Linked DNA regions of Homo sapiens. The protein of the gene in region 2 purifies or fractionates together with the protein of the main gene of each other region. This does not show direct contact. Each region holds a gene or a part of one and is shown on either strand. Other genes may lie near its edges.

What was found.
Region 1: the proteins of MGRN1 (region 2) and ANKRD46 purify together in Homo sapiens (co-immunoprecipitation; 4 studies listed by BioGRID and IntAct, with this or other methods). This does not show direct contact.
Region 3: the proteins of MGRN1 (region 2) and PDCD2 purify together in Homo sapiens (co-immunoprecipitation; 3 studies listed by BioGRID and IntAct, with this or other methods). This does not show direct contact.
Region 4: the proteins of MGRN1 (region 2) and INTS7 purify together in Homo sapiens (affinity purification with mass spectrometry; 2 studies listed by BioGRID and IntAct, with this or other methods). This does not show direct contact.

The regions. Positions count from the first base shown.
Region 1 is NC_000008.11:100,556,760-100,563,934, forward strand, and holds the start of ANKRD46 (ankyrin repeat domain-containing protein 46), read right to left. Parts: upstream 3,001-7,175; 5' UTR 2,952-3,000; exon of another isoform or gene 2,279-2,951; intron 1-2,278.
Region 2 is NC_000016.10:4,627,540-4,635,019, reverse strand, and holds part of MGRN1 (E3 ubiquitin-protein ligase MGRN1), read right to left. Parts: intron 1-7,480. UniProt on the Homo sapiens protein: E3 ubiquitin-protein ligase. Mediates monoubiquitination at multiple sites of TSG101 in the presence of UBE2D1, but not of UBE2G1, nor UBE2H. Plays a role in the regulation of endosome-to-lysosome trafficking.
Region 3 is NC_000006.12:170,581,296-170,589,018, forward strand, and holds the start of PDCD2 (programmed cell death protein 2), read right to left. Parts: upstream 3,343-7,723; 5' UTR 3,287-3,342; coding exon 3,004-3,286; intron 2,453-3,003; coding exon 2,210-2,452; intron 1,894-2,209; coding exon 1,762-1,893; coding exon of another isoform or gene 1,733-1,761; exon of another isoform or gene 971-1,732; coding exon of another isoform or gene 963-970; exon of another isoform or gene 1-962.
Region 4 is NC_000001.11:211,976,460-211,983,939, forward strand, and holds part of INTS7 (integrator complex subunit 7), read right to left. Parts: intron 6,352-7,480; coding exon 6,217-6,351; intron 4,732-6,216; coding exon 4,634-4,731; intron 2,053-4,633; coding exon 1,813-2,052; intron 1,086-1,812; coding exon of another isoform or gene 987-1,085; exon of another isoform or gene 373-986; intron 261-372; coding exon 123-260; intron 1-122. UniProt on the Homo sapiens protein: Component of the integrator complex, a multiprotein complex that terminates RNA polymerase II (Pol II) transcription in the promoter-proximal region of genes.

The DNA.
Region 1 (7,175 bases), on a different chromosome or scaffold from region 2:
AGGAGGAGACACAGTTGGTCACTTTCTCCCTGAAAAACTCTTTACTTGGCCTTCAGTACTCCATACTCGCTTCTTTTTCCTCCTACCTTCAAAAGCCTCTCCTTTGTAATTATTCATCTCTCCAATATCTGAATGTGGAAAGCCCTAGAGCTCAATTCTCATTTCCTTACACTAGATCTCATAGGCTCATGGCTTTAAATACTACCCTTCTGTGCAGGGGTAGCCAATCTTTTGGCTTTCCTGGGCCACAGTGGAATAACTGTCTTGGGGCACACATATAACGATAGCTGATGAGCTTAAAAAAAAATACAATCAATCTCATAATGTTTTAAGTAAGTTTACAAATTTGGGTTGCACAAGCTTGCATTAGTGACTTCCCAAATTTCTATTTCCAGTTGGACCTTTCTCTTCAACTCCCGTCTCTATAACCCCACTTGAACAGGCATCTCAAACCTGACTAAAACTGGCTCCACCTACCTTCACACTCAGTCTTCTCCATCTCAGTACACTGTTTAACTAAAGCCTTCCAATAGCTCAGGCCAAAGGCCACAGGGTCGTGCTTCACCCTTTCTCTCATAAGCACATCCAAACCATAAGCAAATCCTATCAGCAATACTCAGAATACGACGGCTTCTTACTGCCTCTCTTACTACCCACCTGGTCTAAGCCACCATTCTCTCTGGCTTCAATTACTGCATCAACCTAACAGGTCTCCCTGCTTCCATCCTTGCCCTTACAGTCAACACTGAACACAGCAGCCAGAGTGATCCTTTAAAAACCTTAAGCCAGATCCCCTCATTCCTCTGCTCAAAACCCTCCAAACACCTCCCTTCTCACTCAGAGTAAAAGCAAAAGTCCTTACCTGGGCCCATTAGCTCTCTGACCTTGTCTCACCCTCCTTCCCTCCAGGTGCTCAAATCTACTGGCCTCCTTGCTGTTCCTCTCTTGCTGTCCCTCTAACAAGACTGAAGGGTTCTGGGCTTTTGCCCTTGCTTGGTATGCTCTTTCCCTAGACAGCTGCATGGCGGTCCCCAACGCCTTCAGTTTTGCTTGAGTCTTTTCCATGGCACCAGTCCTTATTTTAAAACTGCACCTGTTCCTTCCTTGGTGCTTCCTATCCCCCTTTGCTACTTTATTTTTATTCCTAGTAACTGTTACCATCTGACTCCAGATACGTTAACTTTCACAAATCCCGCTTATCGTCCCCAACCCCACCTTCCTCCAGTGACATGTTAGCTCCTGGAAGACAAGGACTTCATTTTGTTCACTCTCACATCCCCCAGTGCTTAGAACAGAGCCTGGCCATAGAAGGCACTCAATATACGCTTGCTATATGAATGCCGAATATGCAAATTCTTAAATCTATAATAGGTAAGGCTAAGAAGTTTGGGACTATAAAGCCCAACTTATTTCCACAATGGGAAATACAATTTCCCTTTTGATAAAGAACTGTGAGAATCCTTTGTTTTCCATAGTAACACAATTTATATAACATGCCAAAAATTCCTTATCACTTCACATCCTCTCTCCAGTGCCTTTCCTGTATTCTGTAAAATATTAACTTACTATCATCAAAAAATCTTTGATTTCCCTCTGGTACTGCTACCATAATAATGCAAAGGCAAAGTGAACTCACTAAAAAATGGTATGGAAACATAAATAATGAAGAAATGTAATAAAGTGTGTTAACAACCAAACAAATTCATCTCTATTTCAAATCAAATTGTACTGGCACAGTGAGAACCCCAGTCCAAGTTTAACTTTATTATCACTATAGTCCTTAATGAGCTAACAGTTTTCTTACTAAACTCCTTTTAAACTAAAAAGGAGTTCATGTAGGACTCCTGCATATAACCATGAAAACTAAGCCTGAGAGAAATCAGTTCAGGCTACAAATCTAATTGATAAAACTCTTAGACAGCGCTACATGTTTGGCTAGATAACAGACGCAGGGATACTGAAGTAAGGGAGATGAGACCAAATCTCGCTCAGCCTTTGCTAGCTTTCTGACCTTGGAGAAGTCAGACTCTCGGTGCCTCAGTTTCCTTATCTGTATAATGGAAATGGTACCTGATAGGGTTGCTTCAAGGATTAAAGGTACCAGGTATTTAAAGCAATGGCACCGTGTCTGACATAAAATAAGCACTGAAAATAGCTATTACTAGAACATAAAAATAATCCCCACACCACTCATATTACAGCTCTTTAAGAGGCTCCTAGGTACCACCGTCATTTTTTAAAGATTGAGAAGCGCTACTATTCAATGGCATATTTTTACCTTATTATGTTCTGTAGCCAATTCCGAATACCGTGGAACGTTACAAAAAACAGATGTTATTTTCTTGAGGTACTGTTGGGAAAACCTCAGAGAGAACGATCTGCTTTTTAGCACTGCAAGCCAATTAAGGGAGGAAGTTTGCGATTACCCGAGCCCTAAGTGGAAGGTGTGCAAATCCTTCCTTTTAACCCGGGCACCCCGGAGCCATGTGCCATTCTGGAGAGCTCACTCACACCCCAACAGCTTGTCCCGGCGCCTGAACTGTGCGCTCCTGCAAGCACACGCCGCGAAAGCACCGTCTCGCCCCGGCCGAGCAGCTGGACCTGCGGCGTGGCTTCCGCGCTCCACCCCCCGATTAACCGCGAGCCAGGGCTGCCCGCGCTGCCCAGGGGTTCCCCGGACCACAGCCCTAACCCGCAAGCGCAAACGAGAACCCTCGCAGGCCTCTGCCCGGCCCTCGTGAACACACAGACCGCGAAGAAGCCATCACGGACCCGCGGTCGCTTCCTCGGCCCGGCTCCCTCCAGTCGCCGCGGAAGGTGTGGGAAGCCCGGGCACCCTCGCCCCTCAGGGCCCCGGCCAGGCCTACTGGACCTCCAGTGCTACAGGGACGGTGCAGGAGATATCAAGTGGCTCTAGCCCAGGCGCTGCCCACAGGCCCCGGGCCAAGTACCTGCGACTCGAACGAGCAGCAGCGACAGCGGCAGCTTCAAGGAGGCGGTGACGGGCGGAGGGGAGGGGCCAGACAGGGGTAGTCGGAGTCCCCGCTGGGCCAGAGCGGTCTCGCGCTGCAGCCCCCGGCGCGCCCCCTGCAGGTGGGCGGTCCTCACGGTGGCTCGGGCTGCTCTGAGTCAGAGACTCCGGGAAAGCCTGCTCTGAATTAGGGAAAGCATCAAAACTGTGGCTTCAGAAGAGAAAGACAGCCTAGAAGAGGTTTATCCGATCTGAGTCCGGGAGCATTTTGCACTTTTCACGTCCTATTCTAAATTCACATCCCATCCCCTTAGCTAAATGGGGGCTTCAAAGGCAAGGGCAGTTTCATTAGGTGCTATAAGCATCAATTAATAGTTGCTGGCCTCTAGGTAGGTCTTCTATAGACCCGAAATTGACATATTAGGAATAGCCACTAATGATTGGCTGCACTATTTCTAAAATATAACCCTGCATTTTTACTTTTTTCAAAAGCAGTTTGAATCTTTTTTTTTTTTTTTTTTTTTAGACGGAGTCTCACTCTGTCGCCCAGGCTGGAGTGCAGTTGCTCAACCTCGGCTCACTGCAAACTCCAACTCCGCCTTCCGGGTTCAAGCGATTCGCAGTTTGAATCCTTCCATCCTACTTTGTAGGGTTCCTTGACTTATTGCAACATGTACAGCCAAGACTAACTAAAAGTGTGGTGGGACATTCATATGCTGGAAACATTCTTTCATGCAAAACTAGTTTTTTCTTTTTTTCATTTTACCAACTCCAGTCCTACAGCCAAGACAACTCTCACTGCACAGTGACCGTCCTCTGAATTCTAGCACCCTCATCCAACCAAGCCACGCTCTATGGCAAACTTGTCCAACCCCTGGCCCACACCTGCAGGCTGCATGCAGCCAAGACAGTTTAGAATGCAGCCCAACACAAATTAATAAACTCTCTTAAAACATTATGAGTTTTTTTTTTTTTGCAATTTTTTTTTAGCTCATCAACAATTGCTGGTGTTAGTGTATTTTATGTGTGGCCCAAGACAATTCTTCTTCCAATGTGGCCCAGGGAAGCCAAAAGATTGGACACCCCTGCTCTAGGGTATCTCATGGTTCATTCATTCAAGGACCACCTACACCATCTAATAATTTGTTCTTGAAAGTGTCATGTAAAGGTTTAGGACTATTGTCATATTAGAGGAAATCACTATTACATTTCTTTCATGTAAGAATTATAAGATCTGGCCATGCACGGTGGCTCACACCTGTAATCCCAGCACTTTGGGATGCTGGGGTGGACAGATCACTTGAGGTCAGGAGTTCGAGACCAGCCGGACCAACATGGTGAAACCTTGGCTCTACAAAAATACAAAAATTAGCCAGGCACGGTGTTGCACACCTGTAATCCCAGCTACTCAGGAGGCTGAGGCACAAGAATCCTTGAACCCCAAAAGGCGGAGGTCACAATGAGCCGAGATCTCACCACTGCACTCCAGCCTGGGTGACAGAACAAGACTCCATCTCAAAAAAAAAAAAGTTATAAGATCTTAGGGCATTTCACATTTTATTGTGCTATGACTAATCAGCAATATTACTTGTTAAATTGATGACATTTATTAATCAGTTTGTTATTGATGTCCTCCTTCTGGTTGTGTATTGAGTTTATAATATCTTCACTGATGCCTATAAACTATGACAAATTAGCAAGGAAATTAAAGCTTTTCCCAATGTATTAATAAGATTTACTCTTCATTAGTTGACTCATCCAACAATCTGAGAGCCTCTCCATTACTTCTATTCAAATTTATCTCTTCCTCTTCATGAATTACTGCTTTTGATTGATATGAAAAAATGTAGGGATGGTGAAGACAGCTTTTTTCTCTGATGAGATTAAAGTGAACTGCATGCTGCACATATTCTATGGCTCCTTCATGTTACCACACCTGGGCACTTTGACACAGTGGCTGTTAGGAGCTGATATGGTTTGGCTGTGTCCCTGCCCAAAATCTCATCTTGAATTATAATAATACCCATATGTCAAGGGCAGGACCAGGTGAAGATAATTGAATCATGGGGGCAGTTTCCCCTATGCTGTTCTCATGAGAGCGCGTGAGTTCTCATGAGATCTGATGGTTTTATAAGGGGCTTCTCCTTTTGCTCAGCACTCATTCTGTCTCCTACCACCCTGTCAAGAAGTGCCTTCTGCCATGATTGTAAGTTTCCTAAGGCTGCCCCAGCCATGCAGAATTGTGATTCAACTGTGAGTCAATCACACGTCTTTTCTTATAAATTACTCAGTCTTAGGTGTTTCTTCATAGCAGTGTGAGAATGGACTAATACAGGAGCATTTGCAGAAGCCATTCCTACTCTCCAGCAATAAGTTAATAGTGCATGGAAGTGACCACGAACCACATGAACGTCTCCCATTAAATGCAAACCAAAGTACCCCCAGCTGCATTTCTGTTTAGCTGGATCCCAAAAATGCCTGTAGTCACTCCAATGTTAGCCAGTAGAAGAATACTCCGGAAGTCTCAGTGGAAAGAGAGAAATCTTAATCAATTGTAGGTAAAGTATTTTAATTTTGCAAGCTTTACAAAAACATATAACCATATCAGCACTGCTTCCCAGGGCCTTGGAAGGGGCCTGAACAAGGGAGGGCTATATATTGGTTTCCTATTGTCATTGTAACAAATTACCCTAAATTTAATACTTTAAAACAAGGATTATTTTACAGTTCAAGAGGTGAGAAGTCCAAAATCAGTTTCGCTGAGCTAAAATCAAAGTGCGGGAAGTGCTTTCCTTCTGGAGATTCTCAGGGGAGTTGGTTGCCATGCCTTCTCCAGCTCCTAGAGGCCACCTACGTCCCTGGCTCATGGCTCCTTTTTCCATCCTCAAAGCTAGCAGTGTAGAGCATTTTTACACCCCTCTGACTTCTGCTTCTGTCCTTGCATTTCCTCTGTGACTCTCCTGTCTCCTTATAAGGACCCTTGTGATTATATTGGGCACACTTGGATAATCCAGAATAATCTCCCTATCTCAAGATCTTTCACTTAATCACATTTGCAAAGTTCTTTTTACCATGCAAAGCAACATATTCATAGATTCTGGGGATTAGGATTAGGATGTGGACATCTTTGAGGATCTGTTATCCAGCCTACCACAAGAGCCCTGAAGCTTAAACTTTACACTCTTCAGGTAAGTCTGCCTCTTCTTCCTCATTACTAAAATCTATCTGGTCCTGAGTTTTGATCGTGAGAGTTCCAATGGCGGAGGAATACCTGTAATTACAACCGAGATAAGTGTCATGAAGCGAAAGAGAAAGGATTCCTTGAGGGCAAACAATATGGGAGCTAATTTAGATAGAAGGGCAACAATGTCTTTGAATAAGTGATATTTAATCTAAGATGCAAAGCATGAGGAATTAATTATGTAATGAACAAGGGAAGTATTCTAGACAGAGGAGACGGTATGTTTGGCCTGTGAATCCTGATGGCAGAAAGCTATCACCTTCTGTGGCAGTGTCTCTACCACTGAATCCTTAGCACCACCACGGTGACTGGCACATCAGACATGTTTGGGAATATTAGCTTAGTAGTTTTCAACCTGGCAGCATGTTACAATCATGCAGCAGCTTAAAAAATAACAGTGCCAGCCGGGCGCGGCATCTCACGCCTGTAATCCCAGCACTTTGTGAGGCCGAGGCGGGTGGATCATGAGATCAGGAGTTCAAGACCAGCCTGGCCAAGATGGTGAAACCCCATCCCTACTAAAGATACGAACATTAGCCGGGCGTGGTGGTGGGTGCCTGTAATCCCAGCTACTTGGGAGGCTGAGGCATAGACTTGCTTGAACTTGGGAGCCAGAGGTTGCCATGAGCCAAGATCGTGCCACTGCCCTCCAGCCTGGGCCACAGAGCAAGACTCTGTCTAAAAAAAAAAAAAAAACAGGGCCTGGGCCCTAGCCAAGATCAAGTTAGAATCATCTGGAAGCACGGCCCAGGCATCTGCATTTTTAAAAGCTGCTCAGGGAACTCTAATGTGCAGCCAGGATTGAGTTGAGAATCGCTGTATTAGATACAATTGAGTGAATGAATGAATAAGTGAAAGGAAATATTTGCTTTGGGTAGGCTTTTCATTTAGAAAGTTTTCTTATTAGGGATAAGAAGGGTTTTGACTATATTCGTTATATAAATTCCTATCCAGTCTTAAAAA
Region 2 (7,480 bases):
GAGTCTGGGCTCTCAGAGACATCACAGAGAGCATCTGTTCCGCGGGGCGAGAGCCCTGTTAGAAGAAAGCTTCAGTTATGTGAGCAGTGGCGCCAGTGCTGAGCCCTGGGGAGCCAATGCAACCTTCTGCCCACCTCAGGGATGCCAGGCCCCGCTGAGGCCACATACCCAAGACCACGTGAGAGGACCCAAGTCCCCCGCGAGCTGGATGAAAGGACTGAGCAAACGGTGTTTCTTCTAACGGCCTCAGGTCTTGATTTCAGTCACTCCTCAAACCTCTCGCTTCTTCGCCCAGGTCTATGGAAAGGCAAATGACCGAACACTCGCTCAGGATCCAGGGACCCCTCCAACACTGCTCCAGGTCAGCTTCTCCACAAACAAGCAGAGGGACACAGGCCGCTCCTCTTCCAGCCCCTCCTAGGGCGCAGCAAAGGGCTGAGCTCCGGGTAATTCTACAGCTGTTCAGCGAGCACAAGTCAGGCACTGCAGGGATGGTGCAGACGACACCACGCCGTCGTCCACTGGACAAGATGACCCCAAAGCGCAAAGCTAGAGAGCCTCACGGGACACAGCGGAAGGGCGCGGGGAAAGCCAGGCAATGTCGGACCCAGGCGGCACCGGGTCTGGGAGGTGGGCAGGCAGGAGTGGTCACCACTTCAGGGTCATCCAGGAAATACAGAACATTTTCCAGAAAACTTCTGGGCATCATGAAAAACAAAAGCTGGGCTGGGCTGGGCGAGGGCCAGGGCCTGTCCCTCCCTGCTGGCTCACATGGACTGGCAGCCAGACCTGAAAGGGGCCCAGGGAATCAGAGGTGACCCCCAGGGCTCAGCCAGGGAAACCTGGGGCCCCATTGAGCAAAACACTGGCCAAGGCCACTGAGGAAGTCACTGGCACAGGAGGGGCTACCATCAGCCCAGGACTCTGAAGCTAGTGCTCCTCCCACCACACGCCTACAGGGTTGCCCCCAATGGCAGCTGCAATTTTCACAGCCTGTTAGGATTGCTTTTACCTTCAAATGCATCCTACTATGAAACCCAAGCCCTTTTTAAAAAAATTTTTATCACGAGGTCAGGAGATGGAGACCATCCTGGCTAACACGGTGAAACCCCGTCTCTACTAATAATACAAAAAATTGGCCGGGCGCGGTGGCGGGCGCCTGCAGTCCCAGCTACTCGGGAGGCTGAGGCAGGAGAATGGCGTGAACCCGGGAGGCAGAGCTTGCAGTGAGCCGAGATAGCACCACTGCAGTCCGGCCTGGGAGAAAGAGTGAGACTCCGTCTCAATAATAATAATAATAATTTTTTTTATTGATAGATATATTTTTTGAGACAGAGTTTTGCTCTAGTTGCCCAGGCTGGAGTGCAATGGCACGACCTCGGCTCACTGCAACCTCTGCCTCCTGGGTTCAAGTGATTCTCCTGCCTCAGCCTCCCGAGTAGCTGGGATTACAGGCACGTACCACCACGCCCAGCTCATTTTGTATTTTTAGTAGAGATGGGGCTTCTCCATCTTGGTCAGTCTGGTCTCAAACCTCCGACCTCAGGTGATCCACCCGCCTTGGCCTCCCAAAGTGCTGAGATTACAGGTGTGAGCCACGGCACCCAGCCAATTTTTATTAATTTTTCAATAAATAAAGCCTGGGCACTGTTGCCCAGGCTGGAATGCAGTGGCGTGATCTCAGCTCACTGCAAGCTCTGCTTCCTGGTTTAAAGCAGTTCTCCTGCCTCAGCCTCCTGAGTAGCTGGGATTATGGGCACCCACCACCACGTCCAGCTAATTTTTTGGATTTTTAATAGAGGTGGGGTTTTACCATGCTGGCCAGGCTGCTCTCAAACTCCTAACCTCAAATGGTCCACCCGCCTCAGCCTCCCAAAGTACTAGGATTACAGGTGTGAGCCACTGCACCCGGCCAAATTTTATTAATTTATTCTTTAGAGACAGAGTCTCACTCTGCTGCCCAGGCTGGAGTACAGTGGGGCAATCATAGCTCACTGCAGCCTCGACCTCCTGAGCTCAAGCAATCCTCCCACCTCAGCCCACCAGGTAGCTAGGACTAAAGGTGGACGCCACCACACCCAGATAATTTTTTTATTTTTTGTAGAGACAAGGTTTTGCCGTGTTGCCCAGGGTGGTCTCAAACTTCTGAGCTCAAGTAATCTGCCTGCCCTGGCCTCCCAAAGTGCTGGGATTACAAATGTGAGCCACCACGCCTGGCCGTGAGTGACTGTTTCATGGCCACTGGGTTTCTTTTTGGTGTGATGAAGATGTTCTGGAATTAGACAGTGGTGATGGCTGCACAACACAAGTATACCAAAAACCACTGGTCCCGGCACGGTGGCTCATGCCTGTAATCCCCGCATTTTGGGAGGCCGAGACGGGCGGATCAAGAGGTCAGGAGATCGAGACCATCCTGGCTAACACGGTGAAACCACATCTCCACTAAAAATACAAAAAAATTAGCCAGACGTAGTGGCGGGTGCCTGTAGTCCCAGCTACTCAGGAGGCTGAGACAGGAGAATGGCGTGAACCCGGGAGGCAGAGCTTGCAGTGAGCAGAGATTGCGCCACTGCACTCCAGCCTGGGCGACAGAGCAAGACTCCGTCTCAAAAACAAACAAACAAACAAAAAAAACCACTGGACTAGATGTTCTCAGTGTGACTCGTATGCTGTGAATTAGATCTCAACAAAACTGTTATTAAGAATAGCCGGGCGCAGTGGCTCATGCCTGTAATACCAGCTCTTCCGGAGGCTGAGGTAGGCGGGTCAAAAGGTCAATAGATCAAGACCATCCCTGCCAACATGGTGAAACCCATCTCTACTAAAAATACAAAAATTAGCTGGGCGTGGTGGCATGCACCTGTAGTCCCAGCAACACAGGAGGCTGAGGCAGGAGAGAATCACTTGAACCTGCGAGGCAGAGGTTGGAGTGAGTCAAGATTGCGCCATTGCCCTCCAGCCTGGGTGACAAGAGCAAGACTCCATCTCAAAAAAAAAAAAAAAAAAAAAAAAGGAAATTTTTTATCACTACTAGATTGGGAAGGCAATATATCAGTAATAGATTGGCAAATATCACTTGCCTTAAATAGGTAAAGTTATCTGAAAAAAAAAAACAACTGAGAAGCTAAATATCAAAATTAATGTAGAGATATACCATGTTCATGGATTCCCAGAGTCAGCACTGTAAAGACAGCAATTCTCACCACATAGATTTATATATCCAATGTAATACTTATCAAAATTGCAGGCTGCTTTTGTAGAAATAATTGACAGGCTAATTATAAAATGTATATGGAAATGCAAAGAACTTAGCATAACCAAAACAATTTTGAAAGAGAACAAAGTTGGAGAACTTATGCTACCTGATTTCACAACTTACTATCAAACTACTGTAAACAAGCCAGTGTGCTGCTGGTCTAAGAACAGACCAGGATTTCTCAGTCTAAGCACTATGGATATTCTGGGCCGATTTATTCTTAATTGTGGGGGACTGTCCTGTGGCCTCTACCCAACAGATGCCCCCAGCTGTGACAATCACAAATGTCTCCAGACATGGCCAAATGTCCCTTGAGAGGGCAAAAATGCCCCAGTTGAGAACTTCTGGGACACACATAAATCAATGGAACAGAATGGAGAGTCCCAAAATAAACCCTCACATTCATGGTTAACTGGTGGGGTTCTTGTCGCTGTTGTTTTGATTTTTAAGAGACATGGTCTTGCTTTGTTATCCAGCCACAATGCCTGGCTTAGGTCAACTAATTTTTGACAAAGGTGCAAAGGCAATTTGATGGGAAGATGATAGTCTCTACAACAAATGATACTAAAATAATTGAATTCCATCCACAAAAAAGGGGGGTTTAGATCTTTATCTCAAGCCATAAGTGAAACAAATTAATTTGGTCAGCTACAGCGGCTCACACCTGTAATCCCAGCACTCTGGAAGGCCAAGGTGGGCAGATTGCTTGAGTCCAGGACTTTGAGGCCAGCCTGGACAACACGGTGAAACCCTGTCTCTACAAAAAAAATACAAAAACTTTGCTGGGCATAGTGGTACACATACATAGCTGGGAAAACCCAGCTACTTGGGAGGCTGAGGTGGGAGAATCACCTGAGCCAGGAAGTCAAGGCTAGAGTGACATCATGCCGCTATACTCTAGCCTGAATGACAGAGTAAGACCCTATCTCAAAATTAAAAAAAAAAAAAAAAAAAAGAATTAACTCTAAATGGATCAAAGACCTAAATGTAAGAGCTAAAACTATAAAACTTCTAGAAAAGGCCGGGCACAGCGGCTCACGCCTGTAATCCCAGCAATCTGGGAGGCCAAGGCAGGCAGATCACAAGGTCAGTTTGAGATCAGCCTGGCCAATATGGTGAAAACCCCGTCTCTACTAAAAAATCCAAAAATTAGCCGGGCGTGGTGGCTCGCACCTGTAATCTCAGCTACTCAGTAGGCTGAGGTAGAAGAATCGCTGGAACCCGGGCAGAGGCTGCAGTGAGCTAAGATCATGCCACTACACTCCAGCCTGGGTGACAGAGGGAGACTCCATCTCAAAAAAAACCAACAACAACAACAACAACAAAATGCTAGAAAAAAATAGGAGAAAATCTTTGTGACCTTGACCTAGGCAAAGATTTCTTTTCTTTCTATTTGTTTTTTTTTTTTTGAGACGGCGTCTCACTCTGTCGCTCAGGCTGGAGTGCAGTGGCATAATCTCGGCTCACTGCAACCTCTGCCGCGCTCCGGGTTCCAGCGATTCTTCTGCCTCGGCCTCCCAATTAGCTGGGACTACAGGCACATGCTGCCACACCCAACTAATTTTTTGTATTTTAGGAGACATGGAGTTTCACCATGTTGCCCAGGCTGGTCTCAAACTCCTGAGCTCAGGCAATCCACCCATCTCAGTCTCCCAAAGTGCTAGGATTACAGGCGCGAGCCACTGCACCTGCGCTTTTTTTTTTTTTTTTTTTTTGAGATGGTGTCTCACTGTTTGCCCAGGCTGCAGTGCAGTGGCATGATCTTGGCTCACTGCAACCCAACTCCACCTCCCAGGTTCAAGCAATTCTCCTGACTCAGCCTCCTGAGTAGCTGGGATTACGGGCGTGCGCCATTGCGTCCAGCTCATTTTTGTATTTTTAGTAGAGACGAGGTTTCACCTTGTTGGCCAGGCTGGTCTCGAACTCCTGACCTCAGGTGATCCGCCCACCTCAGCCTCCCAAAATGCTGAGATGACAGGCATGAACCACCACACCCAGCCGCCTGTATGATTTTTTTTTTTTTTTTGAGACGGTGTCTCGCTCTTTCACCAGGCTGGAGTGCAGTGGCGCGATCTAGGCTCACTGCAACCCCCGCCTCCCGGGTTCAAACAATTCTCCTGCCTCAGCCTCCTGAGCAGCTGGGACTACAGGTGTGTGCCACCACGCCCAGCTAATTTTTGTATTTTTAGTAGAGATGGGGTTTCACCATGTTGGCCAGGATGGTCTCAATCTCTTTACCTCATGATCCGCCCACCTTGGCCTCCCAAAGTGCTGGGATTACAGGCGTGAGCCACCATGCCTGGGCCCAAGATTTCTTAAACATAACTCCAAAAGCAGTATCCACTTAAAAAGCAGTAAATGAGACTTCGTCAAAATTCAAAACTTTTGCTCTTCAAAAGAAACACCATTAAGAAAATTAAAAGACAAGCCAGACTGGGAGAAAATATTTGCAAATCACATGGCTGACAGGAGAATCCTATCCAGAACACATAAAGAACTCTTTGTTACAACTCCGTAAGATAAACAATCCAGTTTTTGAAAATTGGACAAAAGACTCAAATAGACACTTTTCACACACACACACACACACACACACACACACACACACACACATACGAACAGAAAGCAGGCCAGGTGCAGTGGCTCACCCCTGTAATCCCAGCACTTTGGAGGCTGAGGTGGGCAGATCACCTGAGGTCGGGAGTTCGAAACCAGCCTTCCCAACATAGTGAAACCCCGTGTCTACTAAAAATACAAAAATTAGCCTGGCATAGTGGCCAGTGCCTATAATCCCAGCTACTTGGGAGGCTGAGGCAGGAGAATCACTTGAAACCAGGAGGCAGAGGTTGCAGTAAGCCAAGATTGCACCACTGCACTCCAGGGCAACAGAGCGAGACTGTCTCAAAAAAAAACAGAAAAGGCTGGGCATAGTGGCTCACACCTGTAATCCTAGCACTTTGGGAGGCCAAGGCAGGCAGATCACCTGAGGTCAGGAGCTCGAGACCAGACTGGCCAATATGGTGAAACCTCATCTGTACCAAAAATTTAAAAATTAGCCGGGCGTGGTGGTGCGCACCTGTAATCCAAGCTACTCAGGAGGCTGAAACAGGAGAATTGCTTGAACCCAGGAGGCGGACGTTGCACTGAGCCGAGATCATGCCACTGCATTGCAACCTGGGCGACAGAGCAACACTCCATCTCAAAGAAAAAAGAAAGCAGATCGCTGATGGGCTGAGGGTGGGGGTTGGGGTAGGGACTCTGCAAACAGATGGAAGGAAACTTTTACAAGGGAAATGTCTGCAATTGTGGTGATGACTGCACAATTCTTTTTTTTGTTGTTGTTGCTTCAATGTCCCCTCCTTTTTTTTTTTTTTTTTTGGAGACAGAGTCACACTCTATCGCCCAGCTGGAGTGCAATGGCGTGATCTCGGCTCACTGCAAGCTTCACCTCCCGGGTTCATGCCATTCTCCTGCCTCAGCCTCCCGAGTGGCTGGGACTACAAGCGCCTGCCACCACACCTGGCTAATTTTTTGTATTTTTAGTAGACATGGGGTTTCACCGTGTTAGCCAGGATGGTCTCGATCTCCTGACCTCGTGATCCGCCTGCCTCGGCCTCCCAAAGTGCTGGGATTACAGGCGTGAGCCACCGCACCCACCCACAATTCTTTTTTTTTTTTTTTTTTGAGACGGAGTCTCACTCTGACACCTAGGCTGGAGTGCAGTGGCGCAGTCTCGGCTCACTGCAACCTCCGCCTCCTGGGTTCACACCATTCTCCTGCCTCAGCTTCCTGAGTAGCTGGGACTACAGGTGCCCGCCACCACACCCAGCTAATTTTTTGTATTTTTGGTAGAGATGGGGTTTCACGGTGTTAGCCAGGATGGTCTTGATCTCCTGACCTTGTGATCCACCTGCCTCAGCCTCCCAAAGTGCTGGGATTACAGGCGTGAACCACCGCGCCCAGCCTTTTTTTTTGAGACGGAGTCTCGCTCTGTCACCCAGGCTGGAGTGCAGTGGCGCAATCTCGGCTCACTGCAGCCTCCACCTCTCAGCTTCAAGCAATTCAGCCTGCCTCAGCCTCCCGCGTAGCTGGGACTATAGACGCCTGCCATCACGCCCGGCTAAATTTTTTTGTATTTTTAGTAGAGACGGGGTTTCCCCGTGTTAGCCAGGATGGTCTCCATCTCCTGACCTTGTGATCCGCCCGCCTTGGCCTCCCAAAGTG
Region 3 (7,723 bases), on a different chromosome or scaffold from region 2:
CAAACTCTTTCCTTTTATTTACCAATTTGAAAATGAGTCTGTTCCCAAGTATCCTATAAAGATGATTACTGAGTTTTTTTAAAGTATCATTTTGAACCCATTAAACATATCTGATGCAGTTAGCGTCCTTGTGGATGTTCAAACTGTCCATCTTTTGCAAGCAGGAGCCTTTTCATGTTGCTTGAGTTCTGACATGGCCCTAGTAATCCTTATCCTTAATCTTTGATATGACCATGTTCCCACATTATATGAACGTTTCCTGACCTAGTTCTGGAATCAACCACCTCTCCAAAGAGCCTGGAGTTCCTTTTAGAGAGAAATGGTACGTAGACACAATCAACATTATCTTCCTCCTACGCCCAACATCTCAGTTCTCAGTAACACCAACATAATTACTCGTTTCCTTTCCCCCCAATACACACACAACCATCTCAAAATAAAAGCAACAGTCTAGTAATAACATGTTTATTCAAAATACTAACACTGTTACATTCTTTTCATTCTCAGGGCATATTCTACTAGAGATGTACTGTCCTATGTTTTGAAGTCACCTGGAAGAGTTCTTAGTGTGGTTATATGACTACATCAAGAGTTTTTTACTTTTGATGATTAGGGACTGCTTTTTAAAACTTACTTTACTCCATAATCTTAAAATACTCATACAGTTCCACAGTCACATTTACACTAACAAGGCATATTTGAAGTCCAGCTTTCATCCTTGATCCTGCTACTCTAGGCTCTCCTTTCTCCTAAAGATAAGCATTTTCATTATGTATCATGTTTATCGTATAGGCATGAACACACGCGCGGCCCCTTCCAGGCAGTCTTCAGTGATGTCACGTGTTCCCATGGCACCTGTATTGTACTCTTATCAGTCATTATATGGACTTTAACTTCCCCAGATATTATTTGGGCTCCTCCATAAGACTGTGAGCATCTGACCACTGGAGTGTTGCTTCCCATTATATCCCTGTTATCAAGCACAAGGTCAGGCACAGAGTAAGACTCAAAACATGTTTTGGAATGTATGACTGGTATGAACTACAAACCAGTAAGCTGATGTTTTCATTTTGAGTCTATAAATCTAATTTTGTGGTGGTTTTGTGTATGGCTCAAGGCTCAAATTGTAAAATTTAATATTATGTGACCAAAGAAAGTTATACCCAGAACCTCAATTTCCTCACCTTCAAAATGGGGCAGTTTCTCACTCATTGGTCTGCTGTCACGATTTTAATGAGCTCATGCACAAACAGCCCTTTATATAAGGTAAGTGCTGGATAAATGTTGGCTACTATAATAAAATAAGCCTCTAAGATACTTGGTCAGCACAAGTACTACCCAAGAGTATGCACTGTAAGTAAACTGACAAAATTGTGTATCTAAAACTGGCCAGATGAAAGAGAAACTTTTAAGGGGCCCTTCTGCGTGCCCGACACTGTGCTAGGCACTCACACTATCCCGACCCGAGAAACCGATCTGCGACCCAGAGGAACTTACCAAGCCTCCAGCATCTTGTGCAGCCCTACTCATGGGACCATCTGGATACCCACCCTTGTCTTTACAGGGAGCAGAACACACCTCTTATGTGTCAGAAAACAAAGTCCAGGAAGTATATTTTTACCTGAGGCAATATCTGAAAATTGTATGCTACAGCCTCCAAAGTGAGTCTTCCTCTCAGTACCTCTCTTCTAGGCACATGGAGCCCTTTCTTCCAAGTATTATGTTTAACCACTTAATGAATGAAGTCCTGAAACTGCTTACCCATGCTCCCTATAATCTCTGAGTAATCTTCCTTTTCCACAACCTCAGGCATAATCTCATCTTCTGTTTCTATTACAATTTCAAATTCTGGAAAAAGGAAGTTGTGGTCTGGAATTATATGGTCCAGATGATCTGAAACAAAAAGGACAGCACTATTAGTAATCATTTAGTTTTGAAGACAGTCTAATAATTTGCTGTCTCTAAAGTACTATATTCCCTATAGTTCTGGCATTTTAGATAAAGGGTCATAAATTAAATGCCTATATGGTGACATTATTCAGTGATTCAGACTTCACAGCCTTTTTTTTTTTTTTACAAAGGTGTTCCAGGCATGAAAAATTTTAAAGTACTATACCTTTCCTAATTTTACCTTTAAAGTTGTCCTGGAAATATCTGGGTTGACAAAGGCGATGAAACTGAACTGAGACTTAAAAAAAAGATTACCCACCTGGTTGTGCACAAGCCTGCTTATGTCCCAATCTCCAGTCTAGGGTCTGATGCTCCTTGCTGCAGTAATATGCTTTGTGGCATCTGGAGCACGTTTTGGGGCCTAAACAGCCACAAACCCTGCAGAGATGAGCACCAGACTTAAGCTGGAGACACACTGATTCTCCTGTTTCTGGGGGAGGATTCTCAGAAGGTGGCTCATATGAGTAAAAATCGTTTTTCCTGGGTAGTTGATTCCTAAAAACTAAAAAAGAATACAGAGAAAAGTTTTATCTTCAAACAAAACAGCAATTCACATATTTTATCCTCTGCACGTAAAACTGAAAATAACAACAACAAAAAAGAAATGAAAGTTTTTGCTTTCAGGAATAAGCTTTTAAAATCCAGAAACTAGATTTCGTCCGGTACACGCAACTGAGTTGCCTCCTAGAGGTGGTTTGAGTTAATCAAATTAATAAGACTGATCGTTAAGAACGACTGCCAAAAATACGAAAAAGCTACTGGGATCCATCTTTCCAAGACAATTTCTATTATCTGAATTAACACCATACCTGGTACCCACTGATTAAAAGCTGGGGGTTACCAATGCGCGTGGGCACAGTTAGAAGCTTATGTAGCAAAAATGAGCACATCCTGGAAGGGCCCGGGAGAAGGTGCTCCTGGGGCAGCGCGGAGAGGGAGCTCTGAGGCTGGGGCGGCAGCGGTGCTTGCCGCCGTCCCCCTGGTCGCTCCCGGAATTAACGCCGCGCACGCGTCGGAGGCATGGCCCCGTCCCGACCCCGTTTGGCGGCTCACCTCGCAGGCCGGCACAGCACGGCTGCTCGCGGCAGCAGAAGAGGAAGATGCAGCGGTGGAAGGCGTCCGGGCGGCCAGGCAGCGGCGCATACACCTGCAGCAGGAAGGAGAGCGGGCGGCCGCACAGCTCGCAGGCCAGGGCCTGGGGCCCCGGCAGCCCGGCCGCGCCCAGCCATGCCGGCCGCCCGCCCACCTTGCTGGGGAACTGCTCGCTGCGCAGTCGCCACGCCGGCGCCGACTCGGCGAAGCCCAGCTCCACAGGCCTGGCCCCGGCGGCAGCCATGCGGGGCGCGGGCTGGCGTGGGGCGCAGCCCACAGCTGGGTCGGAAGGCGGAAATCGGGCGCCGGGCCGGAAGGCAAGAGGCGGGCACCTTTCCGGAGGACAGGAGGCGGAAACGCGTCTGACGGGAGCGGTTGCAGGACCAATGCGAGGGAACGGGGCAGAGGAAACCTCTCGGCATCAGCCCCGCCCCTGGCGCCTCTGCCTCCGAGCCGCTTTCCTGGTGCCTCCGGGTGCTCTGGGATGGTTCTGGTCTTTGGGAGAGTGGCAGCTGGTGACGGCGCTCCGCTCACCTCTGCACATGTCTTGCTGTGGGCCTGCGGGTGGCCGCCAGGGAGGCAGAGCCCTCCCGCAAACCTTCCCTGCTGGTGTCCACCTCAGGGTGTGGGAAACCTGTGCGCTGGCCGAGTGCTAACCAAGAGTAGGCAGTGAAAGACAAATGAAGGTTGAACAGGTAAAGTGAGGACCCTACAGCGGAAACCAAGAATCCTGTGTGCCTGAGAGTAATGAAGAAGCCTCTGCAGAAGAGTCTTTTCTGTCAGTCTTAAGGTCTCTGTTTTAATGTTAGTGCTGGCTTGCTGTACCTGAATTCCAAGGGAGGAGTGTATAATGAGGCATGGCCAACCCCCACTTCCCATCATTGCCTGAACTAGTTTTTCAGGTTAACTTCAGAATGCCCTTGGGCAAGCAGAGGGTCCATCAGTCGGTTGGAGGGTTTAGAATTTTACTGTTGGTTTGCAAAGGTCTGAAAGAAACATGTACCACCTGTTCTCTTTAAGGAGTTCTACTTAGGAGGTTTCATTTACATAACAAGACCGTGGTTGTCAGCCAGGTCTCCACCCGCATAACCTGTTATGCCACAATCCAAACCCCCATTCTGTAACCTCAAGATGGTATATAAGTTTCTGAACCCCATTTGGGGCTTCAGCAAAATCACTCTGGTTCTCCCCCATGTGCATGTTAATAAATTTGTATGCCCTTTCTCCAATTAATGTGCCTTTTGTCAGTTGACTTTTCAGTGAACCTTCAGAGGACAAAAAGGAAGCTTTCCCTTGGCTACTACAGTGGCTTTAATGGAAGTAAAGTCATCAACAACATTTATTTTTGACAAAATCACAGTTTAGTTGGCAGTATATTTGTTTGTTTTTGTTTTATTTGAGATGGAGTCTCGCTCTGTCGCCCAGGCTGGAGAGCAATGGTGCGATCTCGGCTCACTGCAACCTCCGCCTCCCGAGTTCAAGCATTCTCCTGCCTCAGCCTCCCGAGCAGCTGGGTAGCAGTATATTTGTAATGGTACATAAAATAATGTCTGTTTTTAAATAAACATTTACATTGTAAACCAAAAGTTAACTCTCCATCAATTTTTTTTTTTCTTTTTTGAGATGGCATCTTGCTCTGTCACCCAGGCTGGAGGAGTGCAGTGGCATGATCTCGGCTCACTGCAACCTTCGCCTCCCAGGCAAGCGATCCTCTTGCCTCAGCCTCCTGAGCAGCTGGAATTATAGGTGTGTGCCAATACAACCAGCTAATTTTCGTATCTTTGGTAGAGACAGAGTTTCACCATGTTGGCCAGGCTTGTCTCGAATTCCTGACCTCAGTTGATCTGTCCGTCTCAGCTTCCCAAAGTGCTGGGATTACAGGCATGAGCCACCACATCCGGCATCCATCAATTTAGAAAGTTTATTTCACCAAGATTAAGGTTGCACCCGTGACACAGCCTCAGAAGGCCCTGATGACCATGTGCCCTTGGTGGTCAGGGTACAGCTTGCTTTTATACATGTTAGGGAGACATGAGACATCAATCAGTATGTGTAAGATGTACTTTAGTCAGGTAAAGCGGGACTTGAGGTGAGGGCTTCCAGGTCATGAGTAGATAAGAGGCAAAAGATCGCATTTTTTTGAGTCCTTGATCAGCCTTCCACTGAATACACAATTTAGTCTGGCTCAGTGAATTATCATTTTTACGTAAACAATAGGGGAGGGGAAGCAATTAGATATGCATTTGTCTCAGGCGCACCTTAAAGGGATAACTTTGAGTTCTGTCTGTCCTTTATCCACAAGGAATTTCCTTGTGGGCAAATTTTAAGGGAGGTACGTAGCCTCTTATCTTGGCAGCTATCTTATTTAGGAATAGAATGGGAGGCAGGTTTGCCTGACATAGTTTCCAGCTTGACTTTACCCTTTGGTTTAGTGATTTTGTGGTCCTGAGTTTTATTTTCCTTTCACAGAAATTATACCGTAAAAGTAATTGAAGAAAATCACTTCTTTCCCCTTCCCTCAACTAGGCCTTGACCATTTTAAATAAAATCAGGATTTGCTGAAGGTCAACAAATTTAACCAAGTTCAGTTAAAACTTAACTCTGAATCTGTATGTCCCTGGGGTCTTTTCCAGTGAGAGATGTCTAAGCATCATTCCAAGCTTTTCTATACTAACTGGCCTATTTGTATGTTTCTTATTTTAGGATTCCTTTTGTTCATGTGTATTTTTATTAGGCAATCACCCATTTCCTGTAGGTTTCCAGGTTAATATATTTTTCTTATTGGAATTTTAATTTATCCTCTCTAGTTTTCTACATATTTTTTTTTTCTTTGAGACGAGGTCTCATATGTTGCCCCGGTTGGCCTCAAACTCCTGGGCTTAAGCAATCCTCCCACCTTGGCCTCCCAAAGTGCTGGGATTATAGGTGTGAATTACTGTACCCAGCCTAGAATCCTTAGTCCTATATACTTTTGCTGTTTTTTTCATTGCCAACTTGAAATAATAAAAAGGGTCAGAATCCTATAAACCAAAAATAAAATAAGGCCCCCCAACCCTCTGAATGGACTTCCTCCTCTGACACAGATCTTTTACAATTTAACCTGTATGAACCCCAAAAATTGGAGACAGGTCTCAGTTAATTTAGAAAATTTATCTTGCGAAGGTCAAGGACACACGATTATGACAGCCTCAGGAGGTCCTGACGACATGTACCTAAGATAGTCAGAGCACAGGGTGGTTTTATACATTTTAGGGAGATATAAGACATCAATCAACATATGTAAAATGAATATTGGTCAGGAAAGGTGGGACAACTCAAAGAAAAAATGGGACAACTCGAAGTGGGGAGGGGCTTCCAGGTCACAGGTAGGTGAGAGACAAATGGTTGCACTCTTTTGAGTTTCTGATTCACCTTTCTAAAAGAGGCAGTCAGACATGCATTTATCTCAGTGAGCAGAGGGATGACTGAATGGAATGGGAAGCAGGTTTGCCCTAAGCAGTTCCCAGCTTGACTTTTCCCATTAGCTTAGTGATTATGGGATTCCAAGGTAATTTCCTTTCACATTTCCCCCCTTTTCTTTTTTAAAATATTTTGGAGAAAGCATTTTTGAAGAAAATAAGTTTCTGTTCCCAGGTTTTATCTGCTCTCTCATGGCTAGGATGGTTTTTTCCTAGAAGGGTAGGTCCTGAGTTATTAGGAAAGCTCATTTTTAGAAGGTTGTGAAGTCTAATATCCTATCAAGAGAAAATTTGGGGAGGAAGGGAGAACAATAAGAACAATCTTGGAAAATTGATCTAGGCCACATTACTCTGAAGTCCATACATCAGTAAGCAGGTATGAAAGTGGCTTATGTATGTAAATAGGTTCCCATTATTTTCTTCTGAAGTTTAAGTTGTCTACTTCAGTTCACAGGGCTTCACGAAAGTTAGTTTTAAGTGACTTAGTTTAGTGACAGCTTAGTTTTAAGTGACTCCAAATTAGGAAAAATGGGGAAAAAAAGAAGGAAAAAAATTGAAAACATTATTTTGAAGACTTGTAGCCCACAAAAATTAGAATTTGGTCCAAACTGTAGAAAATGATAAAAATTGAAAAACATTAGGCAAGACTAGAATCTAACAACTGGTGGACTATAGTTTTCCAGTCTCTAGTTTCCCATTTATACTAAAGACAAATCATGATAGGTTTGCCTTATTATATTTGGCCGAATTATTTGTATACAGTGCAGCAAGAATAATTATTTTTTAACATTGGCTTTTAAATTGGCTTTGATGGAACTTTGTTCCATAGAGGGTATTTCAGATAAGACTTTTTAAAAGCTGAGCCCAGCCATGGATTTGTGCCATCAAATACCTGTGAGTTTGGTGATCCTCTCCTCTTGAGGTTCCAAGATAAACTTGAGGCTCCTGGGCCTGTCAGAAAGTGACATTCTTTACTTACCACAGGTCAGGAACCCTGTACAGGAGCTGTGTAGACAAAGTTATGAGGACGGTTTTTCCAAGGGGGTTTAATTGGCTCCGTAAGTCAAGTAAAAGCATTGGTAAACAACCAGTTTCCCCAATTGTGTCCTGTTACAAATGAAAACAGATTATTAGTGCACTTATGCAAATAACTGTATTGTCATAAGTTAAGAATACTTACAGTTTCCAAATTCTGGAGAAATCGGGTAGAGAGAACCAAATGT
Region 4 (7,480 bases), on a different chromosome or scaffold from region 2:
CCATGACTAAAAGGTACTTCCATCTTTATTTTTAGTTTTGACTACAACTAATAATCATACAATTGAAGATACATGATCTGACATTTCCAGCAACCCAGTTCACTCAGAAGGGTAACACATACCATTCTGGAAGCCTGTCTGGCAATACGGTATACAGTCCATCCATTGGAGACACTTTCAAGCTGCTGCTTAATTACTGCCTTACTTTCCACAGACAATGCCTTCTGACTTGCAACAAAAATCACAGTAGCCAAACTCACCTAACATTGGGCAAGAAGAAAACCAAGAAAATCATTTAATTTTATTCAGTGTCATTGATAACCTACCCCAAAGGGAGGAAAACTAATTAGAGCCCACTGCAAAAGAACAAAATTTGTTTTCCAATGACATTTATTTAATTTTTTATTTTGAAGTCATTAATTTATTCCATTCACTCAGGGCACTCTTTATAACAGCAAAGAAGTAGAAGCAATACCCATAATATGAATAAATTATATAACATAATCAAACAATGAGATACGTAAATAAAATGGATAAACTAGCGACAGACTTACCAACATAGATGACAAGCAAAATACGCAAAAATATGCAAAATGCAAAAGATTACAAGTAGTATGATAAAGTTTACATAAAATTAAAAATATGCAAAATACTGCATATTACTTAGGGATATACACTTTGGTAGTAAAAGAATAACAGGCATGAGAATGATAAATACCAAATTCAGGATAGTGGTTACCTGAGAGAAGGGAGGAGATGCTATCAGCAAGGTAAACAGGGGGCTTCAACTAAACTGTTAATACCTTTTTCTTAAGCTAGATAATGAATGCAAGAGTTTTCACTGTATTATTCCTCAGATTTTTTGAATATTATGTTTCATAATTTAAGACAATCTTAAGGTAGTACTCACAAAAAAGATATCAGGACCGTTAGTTCAAAATGCCACTTCAATAAAAAATAAACTTAGCTAACTGCCTCTTAATATTTCAAAGCTGATTCATATAAAGATCCATACATTTGGTCATCAAGGTAACCTTTTCTGGCAGCAAATGATGGGATGGGGTCAATCTTTTACACAATTCCCTCTGGAGGATTAAACATAAAACAGGCTTGAATAAATTATTTCATTATATTTTTTCCCACATTCTAAATTAAGATGAACAGAACAATATGGAATGGCAACCTTACAACTTTCATTTAATTTACAATTATTTAGAATGTAGCCTACTCTCAGTCCTGCAGAACTTTTCAACTAAACATTTTATAGCTTCCACAGCTTCTGTTTCTTTCTAAGCATGTACCTTTCCCAACCTCAAGGGTCTACAGAAGCCTAAACTGGATCCTAAACAGCTAAAGAGGTCCTGGAATGGAAAACATAAATTTGGGCTAATTTATGGTCATTATTATCATTAGATTTTTAACTTCTATTTTCTAAAGTACAAAACAGGGTTTAGTTCATTATTTACTCTGTATAAGAAAGATAAAAATTTCATTTTCATTCTGTCCTTTGCAATAAAAAAAAACATGAGATTGAAGGCTTTGGCTATACTAGGCTGATTTGACAGGGTTTCGGAAGAAAGCAGTTTTAGAGGTGAACAAAACACGGCTTTCTAAATCAAAAGTGAAAAAAGTAAAAAGCTCATAAAGCCAATTCTATTTTGACATCAGCACACTCTTTGGTCTTAGGTAATGAATTTAACCTATTGTTTGTTCTGTTTTTTAAGTAAAGTCAAATAGTAATGTTGACTTAAAAGTAATTCCCACTAGACCAGATCCTAGTCATTCAAAGGAGATTCAAAATGGGCTTTTTACCAGAAGTTCTTGTTGCTTGTCTGTGGCTGATCGTCCAATCACCTTGTACAGCTCCATGAGGTCACCAAGCATCCCATCACCCAGCACCGGCAGTTGCATGGCAATGGCTGCCAGGCAATGGCACATCAAAATCCGGGCAGCGTCTTGAGCACTGTGCAATTGAGTCAACAAGGTCTCAACTACTGACTGGCTAAGATGGGGCCTGCCCTTGGCCAACTTCACCATACAGTTTAGAGCAATCTGCACGCCAAAAAGAAAATGAACTAGTTACATTTTGAAGATACAGATGAAGCTTTAAGGAAAAGAGCTTTGTACAGGTTACTGGGGAAACTCAAGGGTGAGGTTTCTTGTAGGCATAACATTTTACTTCATAAGAAATATGAGGTACTGAATCTCACATTAGGGTTTGTGAAGTGCACTACGTTTAAAATAACAAATTAGGACTGCACGTCAACCACTCATTTCAATCTAAGACTATTAAAATACTTTTAAGAAAGATGGAAATCATAAGGAATAATGCTGAAGAGGCAAATATAGGCCAAATGTCACCATCACTGTATTATCATTACTTTTCAGGAACTGCTTCTGAAGTGTGGCTTGTAAACTATGCCAGCATCTCCCAGAATGAAAATAAAAATATAGATTCCTGAATTAACATACGTGTGTGTGTGTGTTGAGGCTACTGAGGTTTCACAGTTTTAAAAAGACGGCTTAGATGACTCTAAGTACACTGAAGTGGGAAAGAGGTTCCCAATTTTCTCTTATTTCTCAACTGAAATCTAAAAACCAATTTGGCTACAGAATTTCTCTTACCAAGGCCTTCTTAAAGGCATCACTAATATCCAGCCAAAAAACTAGAAACCTAGAAATATTCCCACTTTTACATAGCTAACAGATTCTTTTGTCAAGCCTCCAATATCCACTGTTGGCACTTTTCCATTCTCTCTACCACATCATAAATCTCTTCCTAATTCCAATTTCTTGAAAAGATGGGCCCTTCAATCCATCCTTCACAATGCAGCCATGTAGCCATCAGTGGGGTGTCAGGCACACACATAACTTTAGAGTCTGATAAATGCAAGGGCTGAAGCTCAGCTTGCCCCTTATTAGCTAGGTGGCTTTGAACAAGGTACTTCTCTCTCTCGGCCTTAAGTTTCTGATGTGTATAAGAGGAGAACACATTTCATTATAGGGTTATTGAAGGACTGAAACAAATGTATATATAAGTCTTCAACAAAGATTGGCACATAATAGACATTCAAATAACAATAATAATTACGACAAAGGTTACCATTACTTTAAAATTATATTATCTCCTCATTACCTATAGAATCAAAGCCATAATACCATGTTATTTGATATCCTCTATGACTGAACTACTTTTCCAAATCTCAAATTATTTCACCCAGCCACAGTGGGCTAGTCACCATTCTTCCACCACAACAGGTACATTCTTACTTTCAAGTCTTTTATAACAGCAGTCATTGGGCTCAAACAATCTTTCCTCATTACTGTAATTCGATTCCATCTTTCACAACTCAACTCATATGACATTTATTTAAAGTCTTCCCTAATACCCTTGGTTAAAGTTAATCACTCCCGACTCTGACCTCTCATTAGAACTGCACTTTTTTTGTGAAATATCAGAGAATGTATTGTGTTCCGCTTGGTATTATAGTCCCCTATATAAACATCAGTAGCCTATTCTAGATGGGAAGCTCCTCTATTACAGGAACCTTTCTTGGCCATCTATGTATGTCCCACTGTGCTGAATCCAGCATTTTACTGACACCCACAATTGTTGGAAAAAAGATTTGCTTTTAAAAAAAGTCTTAAATGTACTGTGGTTCCAAGGGGATTCTGAGGATCCCCCTCAGAATGTGTTGCCAAACACATGTTGTCTACTTCCCTTCTCTACTTCTTATTAGCTGTCACTTAATGATGTTACTATCTTTATTGTTCATCACTATGACCATATCACAACTTTCCTTAACCTGCTAAAATGAGCCATGACTTCCTTGAAACCACACCTTAGACAAGCTAACGCCAATGTTTATCTAACAGTTTCTTACTTCTATTAACTATGCTTCTCCTCATTAATTTTGCACCATCACAAATTATATTTCACGTTTCACTCCAAAAAGAGTAGTTTCATTTCACATTTTATTTATTTATTTTTTTTGAGACAGGGTCTCATTCTTTCACATAGGGTAGAGAACAGTGGTGCAATAATGGCTCCCTGCAGCCTCAACCTCTCGGCCTCAAGCAATCCTCTCACCTCAGCCTCATGAGTAGCTAGGACTATAGGTGTGCCCCAATATGTCCAGCTAAATTTTAAAAAATTTTTCTAGAGATGGGGTCTCAGTATGCTGCCCAGGCTGGTCTTGAACTCCTAGGCTCATGCAATCCTTCCACCTTGACCGCCCCAAAATGCTGGGATTATAGGCATGAGAGCCACTGTCCTGGCCTCATTTCACATTTTAAAAATCTTGCATATCTCTAAGATGATTTCTGTAACTAAGTGAAGGTGAAAATTCCTTAAAATATTCTTCCCTTGGCTTATAAACTAGGGCTTATACCACTGGGAAATTAATGAACGCTTATGTTAAATTAATGAACATTTATGAGTCGGCTGCAGTCATGTCATCAGTTTTTTTGTGGTTTTATCAGTTAGATTAAATCAGTGTAGTTTTATCAGTTAGATTTAATCACTTAGATTAAAACTTCTAAGAGTACAGGAGCTATGTCTGCTTAACTTTGCTTTCTATTGCCTAAGACCATCATATATATCTATTACAACTTAATAAATAAAAGTTTTCACCTTTAAAGTGGCCTGAGCACCTGGACTATCATCTTGACTACAAAGTACCAGTAGGGATTCCAGGCCAAAGACAGCATCTTGTTCCAGTGCCAAAAGATCTAGAAGAAAAACAGTAAACTTTATGATGGTCAAGTGATGTGTGTACAAACACACACACATATACATGCATACACACTCTCTTAGAAAAAACATTAAGGAGTTTAAGATATAGGGAATTATTAAATGGATGAACCTAACCTTCCTTGAAAAAGTACATGTGGCATTACTTCTAGAATGTAAAGTCTATCTTCAGACTTTATTTCTACCACTTTATTGAAGTATTTATAAAAATATACACATTAAATCAAGAGCTAAAGCCACAAAGCTATAAATAAAGCAAAACTGAAATAGTGTCACCAGCTTAGCTAAGGAAAATACTAAGAACAGCAAACTATGCAGTATGTGTTAATCTCCCTAATCAGAAATAAATTATGCAGGTCCATTTTTACCTAAGATATAACAGTTTTCAGCTTCTAATGAAAGCTGAACCACTTTTAGGAAATAATAAGGTCTCCACATAACCTTATTACTGTTTTAAGTCTGACCATAAAGAATGAACCTCTTAGATGTCTCATGAAATAGCAGCACTAGAACATCTTTTCACTACCATAGGGTTAAAATTTCTCTGAAGGTTTTAGAAAGTTCTGAATATATTAGTTACCTTTAGGTTAATATATTTCAGTGTTGAGAACATACAGCAGTTTTCTGTGTTACATGGAAGAAAATACTCTTTGTGATGCCAATATAAAACAGGCTTAATTATCCAAATCAGAATCAACTTTCAACTTTAAGAAATGTTTCCTGAGTGCAGGAGCTTGGCAAACAGAGTAAAGGCTAGTGAAGGTCAGGTTGCTAGAAAAAAACAGGTACTAGGAACAAGCAGTGCTGAAGGCTAGGGGGGATAAGAGGAACCACTGAGCTTGTAATCCTTAATGAAGATCAAAATCAGCACTGAAACAGATGGAATATCCAAAATGCATTTCTTGTTCTTGAACACAAGTCAAAAGATGTTAGGTAGACAACAAAATATGTGCATTATTTTCCTTGCATGTCCTCCTTGATTATGCAAGTCAGTTTAATGCCACATATACCTAGAGTAAATTCTGTGAAAATTTAATTCACATTGGTCTGTGAATTCACTTGCCTCTAGGTGAAACTATTTGTTATTTAAGTCCCTGGAGAACCTAAGTAAATTTTCTAGGTTTTTGTATAAGTGAACATACCACCTTATACAAAAGGGGTAGAGTCCTAAGCAATCTTTATCCACCATATATGCACCATATATGCAAAGGTAAGCAGTGGAAGGAAATGGGCAATGCTCCATAAAACCTTTCAATTCCACTCCCAAGGTCTTCATCTCTTTATTATTTTTCACAAGGATAAAGTAGTCTTAAGAACACATGCTCTAAGAACACTTTGAAAGGAGTCAATTTGTAGATCAAGGCACACAGGCTAAAAATAAGGGATTAAAAAAAAATCAAACAGAATTCTGTCCAAGGTCTAAACCAAAGTTTATACGTAATATCAGTCCTGATCAAACTTACCCTTTTCTTGACAAGAAACAGTTATATTAGTTAGGACTCTAACTCCATGAGCTGCAATGCCCCTGTTATTATGGTAACAGCACTCTTGGGCTAATTTGACTAAATCAGAAGATCTGGGAGAAGAACTCACATTTCCTAAAAAAGCAGAGAAAAGTAGTAGAAATTGTAATTCAAATAGTTCAAAAGCAGTTCAGCTCATAGGTTCAATTTTCTTAATTTTTGAGAAAAGTCTCTAACAATAAACTTCAACAAAATTTCCTACCACAATCCCACTATCAATACATATCAGCATTTCTCTCCATTAAGGTACTTGAAATAGGTATGTGCCAACAGTTTCGTAATGACTAAGATCTAAAATCAACGTATAATTTCTTAAAAAATATTAATAAAAATTGACTAACAGTACAAAAGCCAAAACAACTATCCTAAGAGTTCAAATGAATTCTGATTAAAACAGGTATCATTATAGGCCTCTTGTCAGACAAAACCATACTTTCAAGATAGGAGAGAAAAGAGAAAAAAATTTAAATTTGCTTTTTTTTTCCATCTCAGATTGCTGACACACATTTATACCTCATATGAATTCGTGATTGTAGAGCTGGAAAGAATTTTGGGATCATCTGATTTAACACACCCTATTTTTACAGGTGGAATCAAAGCCCAAAGCCCCAAAATTTTAAGAATCTTGCCATTAAGTTCATAAAACTTATCAGTCATGTTCTAATGCCCCTGTTATTATACTCTTCTGCTTTATACCTTAAATTCCATGCTATAGATTGCAGCAATTTTTAAAATTCACATTTGAAATTCTGGAATGCAAGGTTCATGTTGTAACTATTGTAATTTACAGTAGAGAAGCCCTCAGTTATAACTGAATAAGCTTCAAGAAAACAAGGAGATTAGGGCTTGTTCAACTACTTAAAAGAGTCTCCCATTCCTGTCTTCTTTTCCTCTGCTTATTTTTCCATGATTCTCGTCAACTTCAACTTTGTTTCTCATACCAAGGGTGACCGTATTTTTTGAGGCTGAAAGAGACGCTACTAAGAATTACAATAGACATAAACCATGAATATCTGTGGTGACATGGGACCTATGGTCACTTTGTTGATTTCTGGTTTAATATAATACAAGTTTAAGAGAGAGCCTCAGTGTTTTTTGGGTTTTTGTTTGTTTTGTTTTGTTTTTTTTTTGAGACAGAGTCTCACTCTGTTGCCCAGGCTGGAGTGCAGTGGTGCGATCATGGCCTACTACAGATCACAGCTCA